Homo sapiens: one gene and its partner. The protein of the gene in region 2 interacts with the protein of the main gene of each other region in a pairwise test. Each region holds a gene or a part of one and is shown on either strand. Other genes may lie near its edges. The genes, in order: MECOM and PPP1R9A.

Region 1 (3,828 bases), on a different chromosome or scaffold from region 2:
AAATTAAATTGAAGACAAAATGCAACAGTTATTGCTTTCATATGATGGCTGCCTTTAAGTGCAGAATGATTGTGCTTCTAAGTCAAAGCAATAATAATTAAAAAAAAAAACTCATGTCAAGGAGATTTTATAGACTTTCAGTCAAGCAAAACTCACCCAGAGCTTGGATTATCCCACATACATCCAAACAGGAAGTACCAAGTAAGGGTATATCTCTTTCTTTTACTACTAAAGGTTAAAGTGTATTGTTGCATATATCAAAGTGTTTGGTAATATTAAAGGTGCCTTCAATTGTGGGATGAATCACAACGTTACAGAGGCTGTAACATGCATTTTAATGGGAATAGAAGATGTGGGTGATATCTTTTCAAATTATTTTACCAGAATATATCGACCAGAGTCAGCTTTAAAAGTATATACAATTTAACCATACACCATAAATATACATCTAATTTAAACTGTTTGATACACTAATTAAAATCAAATAATGGAGAAGGTAGAAACATCAGATGTTTACTAGATATATTAGAATAATTTATAGCTACAAGCAATAACAATATTTTATTATTGGAATTATAAAAAGTAAGAAAGCAACACCTCTTAAAAGGCATTGAAAAAATGTCTTGATGAGTATTCAACCAAGACATAAGTTTTTCAAAGACTTGTCATTTTTTGGCAAGGAAATGTTGCTCTCTACACTTCTTTCTTACAATCAGATGGCTTAAAAAAAAAAAATCAAGAGCTTCTCTCTATTGGAGTAACAGAAGTTCAGCTGACTTTTCTGGTGGCACCCGTTGTTACATGGCTGAGTGCTGTCTGTGTCTGGGCTCAAGAACATCGAATCTGGGATGTTTTCTTAGGCAGAGGCTTTGTTTTCGGCACTTGAAGGCCTGGCCTGGCATACCACAAACTACCAGGCCTCCAGGTAAACTGGTTCAATTGATGTTGAAGTTTATACTCTACTGTAATTTTCTCAGTAATAAGGAATTAGCCAGCAGTTAACATTGCATTTTTCTACTTATTAAACAAATTAAGAGGCATTTTGAATATATTCAGCCTATTAGAGCATGTGGTTTCTATTTGGGAAAGCTGTAGGTTTCTGTAAAGGCAGTGAGTAATTACCTTAGCACTGGTGACTTTGGGCTCAAGCGTGGCAGCACACTGTAATAAGAGACAGTTGCCATAAACACACCAGTGGGGGTAAATCGTGGTGTGTGGCCTTCTGGTGAGAAACAGATATCAGCCCTAGGTGAACCTCCTCCACTCAAGTCTCCACACCATTTCCTGATCTTTAATCTCTTTTGTTCTGAAATTACATGGCTATTATTCATAATTACTCCATGGTTCTCTGGCAGATTTTAAATTTGAAGAATGCCATCTGCTATTTAAATTTACCAATAATTACTGAAAATACATTCAAGGGAAATACTTTATGCAATCTGATTGGAAAGGGACACCCTATGGCACTTTAAAGTGAAACACTTGTCTTCAACACAATTAAAATTCCAGATCCCAGAATCTTCGATAGCAGAAGTCTATATTTTCTGACTTTTATTTTAAATAATAGAGAAAGCATTAAATGAGTGATCAGAATTCCTTGTGGTTTATTCTAGTTTTTTCTCACATCAAAACATAATAAAACTTACCAAAATTTATTTCTGAGGAATCAGAAATAAATGAACTATTTAATATCGTATGCCTGTAGTACTTCCAAGTACATTTTCAGGGCATTAAGACTTAAGAGTCAGGAATGCCTTTTTGCGACAAGAAGTCTAAAATTTCTATTGAATGCTTTATTTCCCGTGACCTTCAATAGAGCTTCCCCAAGGGAGATGAGAGCACCCTTTTTTAATCTGCTAGTCCTCTTCACCCGGGGAACAGAAGAGCATATGAGCAAAACAGGACTCTAGTGTAAGCTGGAAAAGGAAAGAAAAGCTATTTTGGTGCTTGGACACACAAAAGAAAGCTGTGTCGAGGCAAAGGAGAGTTAGTCTCTGGCATCTCCATGTTGGCACTGAAAAATAGTTTTTTCCATCAGGTCCTGTAGTAGTGTCTCATATACCTACTACAAACCAAAGTCAGAGGTCTTGCCAAGTGCTGAGTATGCTTCAACCAATTCTATGTGTATCTGGGTCCAAAATCAGTCTTGACGTTTGTAGCACAACTCAATAAGTCATTGTATTTATATGCCCCGCCAAGCAATGGATTAAAAGAAGCCCAGATTTTTTGCCCAGGTAGACTAAGAACAACTGATTTTACTTATAAAATGTTTGAGCACAATACAGAGAATAGGAGTGGGCGGAGAGAAGAAAAAGCAAATGAGAGCTGAGTTTTATTGTATTTGAAGGATGTTACTACAGTGCTCTGTACAGGGATGTTCTAAGTAGGTGGTCAGATCAGATGTCCCCTAAAAGCACACTGCCTATAAACTTGCTTTGGTGCAGTGGGTAAGAGAAACAGCATGTCCAGCATCTAAGTGAAAATGTTCTGCTTTTCTTCAAGTAACAGAGAACTACAGATCCGACAGCCTGTGATCGGCAACAATGGGTAGATTAAAAAGCATTTCATCCCCCTCGCTCTCTCCACACACATATACTCACATACATGCACACAGAGCCGTAAGCCTACTTCCCAGGTGGGCTTCTTCCAGCTCTTTCTGATCCAGAACAGGTTTTTAATCACTTCATCTTGTTTAGTGATGGCTGCTATTTGCTGCTTTACAAAGCCATGAACATTTACAATATGAGACAAATCTGATTGTCCTGATTAAATCCTACAACCTGTGGAGGTTTCCCTTTGATTATCTAATGAATTTTCTTTTCTCTACCTGTTATTGATTTCTTCTGAAAGAAAACACCCCAGGAATCAAGGACAAAATACCATGGATCTGATTATAAAAGATTTACTTGTAATCATAAATAGCCCTACTGGATTGGACCATAAATAGCTAACACGGTGACCCTCTAAAGGCCATGTGCAGCCACTCTCCTGGTCACAGTGCCTTTTGGGGAAGAGACAGATGTGGGAAGGAGGGCTGGAGTGTTGAAAACTTACAGATAAAGGGCTTCACACTGCTGTGGATGTGCTTGTGTTGTTTGAGGCCCGACGAAGTGGCAAACGTTTTGCCACACTCCGGGCATGCATGGGCCCGGGCACCGACATGCTGAGAGCGAATGTGCCGCTGAAGGTTGCTAGGGTCCGTGAAAACCTGCTAGGAAATGAGTACTGATTAATCAAGAAACTTAACTCAAGGGCACAATAAAGAAGACCCGGGATGACTCAAGAAGAAATTTTTCTTATTTGTTTTGTTTTTCTTTTCCCCAAAGACCAAAAGTGTACTCTCCTCTAATTTCCAAAATGTACTCTCCTCTAGGGTAGGAACTGTAAATTATTCTGCTCTATATCCTTAGCATGGTGTATCCACTGGTATCAGTTGAACCAAATAATGAATGGCACTATTAGGCCATATTCAAGGCCTTTTTGATACCATTTAGAGTGACTTGAGTTGAATAATAAAATGCTGGTTAAGCCATTATTAAAACTGGTGTGCTATTTTCACCCTTTAAATAAAGACACATTGTGTACAAAAATTTGGAGGATTTTGACTAACTACATTAAATCTATTTAAAGAGTTTCCCTAGGGCGTAAAATTCTAACACTCTTTCAGTGAGTTACTAGCAAGCTAAAACCATTCCTTTAGACATTGTACTAAAAACAAAAATAAAAAAGCCACCCAACACATCTGAGAGCAAAACATCCCTAAAGAAATTTCAAATGTATTTTTTAATTTTTATGAGAAAAAAACATACAAAATTTTAATGTGCATAG
Region 2 (3,828 bases):
ATATACATATATATTTAAGGAATTTCACTAAGCACTAACTAAATTTCATGTTGTTGGGAGGTGTTATCTGGCTGGAGTGCCTCTTAATTCTTTTTAAGGTAATTTAATTATTTCTTGCCAATTGTTCTTTCTTGAATGAATGATTACATCCTTAACAGAAAACCTGGGTGTATAAATAATACAGCTGAAAGAAACAGAAGTGTACACCTTCCAACAACATACACTCCCAACCACTTGTGTTGTTTTTGGCAACAACCAAAATGCCATTGCTTGCACAAAAAGTAAATAAATGATCATATGATGGCAACATTCATCATAAGAGAGCCAGTAGGCAGTGACTGTAAGCATCACAGCCACCAATTATGTCATTTTAGAATTGTGAGCAAATTCACAAGAACACACAGTGCAATTTTTAGCTGCATACATTTCTTCTGAGCTCCAACTCAGCAATATGCAATCTTGACATCAAAGCATTAGCCAAATATTTGAGGAAATTTTCTTACTAAAATACCAAGTATCTGATAAATCAATTTTACCAAAATATATAAACATATAGAAGGATAAGTGCATTTAGTAGAAATACTTACAATAAAAAAATCTCTTAAAATCTATGAGCCATTCAATGTATACACAACGCAAGAAGTGGCAATAAGGCTATGATTACAGCTCCAGGTCCTGACTGACCTCGCCAAGTTCCATACACAATATATTTTTTAATGCCATGTGATTGCAGTGTGTGTGCGTGTGTAAGGTGGGAGTGATATTCACACATATGTAGTTCTGAACATCTACACAAACGGCATGCACATTGTTGAGAAGTTATCTGTTCTCTTATTGCATACATCTTACTCACTGTTGAATCCCTAGCAGTTTTGGGGTTGGGTTAGGGTCAAGCATAGGAAATCATCATATTTCTTTCCTTCTCCACTCTTGAGGATCTGGAATCAGGTCACAGACTGTGCTGGGTCCACACGCTTACATATGTGAACCTTCAAGTAACTACCATTCCCTCAATAGGCCCACATAGACACCACGGACAAGCAAATAAGGACCCTCTGTCTACCATAAATAGAACTTGATGCTTTCACTTTCCAGGAGAAGCTGATTCTGTCGGCTTTCTCTTTGCCCCTCCAACTTCTTAGTTGGGCCTATTCTATGCTGCTACTTCAAGTTACTCAAATGTGTTTTGTCTGGTGTTATTTTTTTCTCCAGTGTTTTGGACCAAGACTAGATTTCCTGAGACTTTAAATACGCAAGACAAATGCAAACAAAATCTGCCAACATACCCAGGCTGCTTTTCAGGAGTGAATCACTGAAGCGCATTTGGATTTCCTATAACACTACTTTCTTTTGGGAATGTACAGCCCTCCCCCAGCTCCCCATCCCCCATCATAATGTAAACCATTCTAATAGAAAATATGGATGTTTTGGCTGGGGGTGGTGGCACATGCCTGTAGTCCCAGCTACTTGGGAAGCTGAAGCAGGAGGACCACTTGAGCCCAGGAGTTTGAGGCTGCAGTAAGACATGATGGCACCACTGCAGTCCAGTCTGGGTGACAGATGACAGAAAAAAAAAAAAAAAAAGAAAAGAAAAGAAAATATGGACATTTTATTTCTGGACTTTATCCTTAAATGCTTAGCTTTAGAATAGTGCACAGGTACATCCTTAATAAAAAGTAAATTTGAAAAGACAGGAAAGGACTGTGCTTTTCTCTTCCATTTTACCTTTTCATTCTGAGACCACTAAGGTCTTTGCATTAAGTAGGTGACGTGAACCCTAGTGACCACTGCCCACCAAAATGCCCCTCATCTCCAGCTCTGTCAGGAGTACCTTTAGTTACTCAAATGGAAATATCTCAGTGTAATGATGGGGCTACAACATATCCAAAGTATAGATGGTTCTCTCAGGGCTGCTGGGGCAGCTTCCTTTAGAATCCTCTAGAACACTATTGTTAAACACTGGATCTCCTCTTGAAGTTTAGTCTGCATAACCTTTAACACTTAAACATGAATCAGAGTATCTATATAAATGCAAATTTTCATTTCCCTTTTATAAAATGCAATTTTCAAGCACATGCTAATTCTGGTGCACAATGAACCCAGACAAATTTGTCTTCAGCACAAACTCTAACGGCCGAGGTGCTAGATCAAACCACCTGTGACCATTTTTGTAGCTTGGGACTGGGATATTTTAAGATTTCAGGCTAGTGATGATTACAGGGTCACAGATAGTGGCAAAGGTAAATCTGGTTCCTCATTTTCCCTCTTGCCACTTTGTTTCCAACAACAATGGAGCAAAAGGTGACAGTCCCATTTTGTGCCAGTTGAAAGCTGAGTTTGGCTTTAGTACCTATCATACTGCAATCATGAACTGCTGTGGGTTAAAAAAAGCTTGTGATGTTGAGGGTGTGAAATCAATTGTCAATCCCAGCTAAAGGATGATAGCCACAGAACAGCTTTATTGTCATGAAACTAAAGGGGGACTTCATCAGGAGTGTTAGAATGGATGAAATGAGGTTTCTTCCCTAACTTAACATTCTGCAGAAAATTCCTGATTCAGGTAAAAAAAGAATGAGATTAGTATTACATAAACTGTGAGTTACTTGAAGGGAGATGGTCTTAAACAAAGTAATCTGTTATAAAACTAACATCCTTTAATGGGAAACCCTGACCCAGATACAGCTCATACAATGCTTTCTGTCTGCAGCTTGGCCTCCTCACCACACATTCCCTCCCAACAAAGCATAACCTATACCCCAAAACACTTTTGGCTATTGTTAGAATCATACTGAGCTCTCCTTTAGGGAATCAGTTCATAGCAACCAGATATTCCCTTTTTGTTCATTTTCTGATAATAAAAACTGCAGTTTTTAAGGTTGATGAAATAACAATTCTGTGTTAAATTGTAAGGACACTGAAAACCACTAGCATTAAAGTAGGAATTGTGCAAGACATTGGAGCCTTGATTAGGTATCATGCACTACAGTCAATAAAAGAAATAATAGGAAAACAAAATGTGCACAAGATCTGAGGTCTTTCACTTTGCTTTCATACCCTTAATCAGTTTACATCTTATGCTTTGTGGGGCAATCAAACCAAATGACTTTTACAATTTCATCCGTTTTAAGTGGTAATGTTAAAATAACTCACTTCGGCCTAAAATTACTATAATTTAACTTAAAAAATCAAAATACTTATAATACTAAATGATTTTAGGAATAAGAATTTGATTTATAACATTGTCAGTTGGACATTTATCTAAACATTCAATATACAAAGTTATAAAGAAAAATACTTCTAAGATATTTAAGAAAATGCAATATAATAGATCATAAATTAGGTGCAAAAACAAGACACTTACAGACATTTCCAGTATATACATCCATTTTCAAATATTACCAAAGTGTAAACATAACTTAAGATAATCATCCTTCTATTTCTACTCTTGAATACAGTGAAACTTCCAGTGTGATCCAGGTCACTTTTTTCCCAAAGATAAGCAAAAATGGCAAAAATTTACAATAGCAAGCACTAATATTACCAGATTTTTACTAATTTAGTGTTTTAGTATTTGAAAAGTTTTGCCAAATTGTATCACTCATTAATAGTGGCTTCTTATTTCTCATGATGTGAAAAAATAACAAAGCACCAGACATCTCAAGACATTAATAGAGTATCCAATACGGCAGTTTCATTATCATACCCCTAATGAAGACAGACAGAAAAACATAATGGTGACTTTGATAACTGTAAAACACAATGTTACTTCATGTCAACGTTTCTGAGGATTGAATGAAGGGTCTGTACCTAATGACAAAAGAGCTGACG

What was found.
Region 1: the proteins of PPP1R9A (region 2) and MECOM interact in a two-hybrid assay, tested with the Homo sapiens proteins (one study listed by BioGRID).

What each region holds. Positions count from the first base shown.
Region 1 is NC_000003.12:169,118,002-169,121,829, forward strand, and holds part of MECOM (histone-lysine N-methyltransferase MECOM), read right to left. Parts: intron 3,212-3,828; coding exon of another isoform or gene 3,209-3,211; coding exon 3,055-3,208; intron 1-3,054.
Region 2 is NC_000007.14:95,292,035-95,295,862, reverse strand, and holds part of PPP1R9A (neurabin-1), read right to left. Parts: 3' UTR 1-3,828. UniProt on the Homo sapiens protein: Binds to actin filaments (F-actin) and shows cross-linking activity. Binds along the sides of the F-actin. May be involved in neurite formation. Inhibits protein phosphatase 1-alpha activity.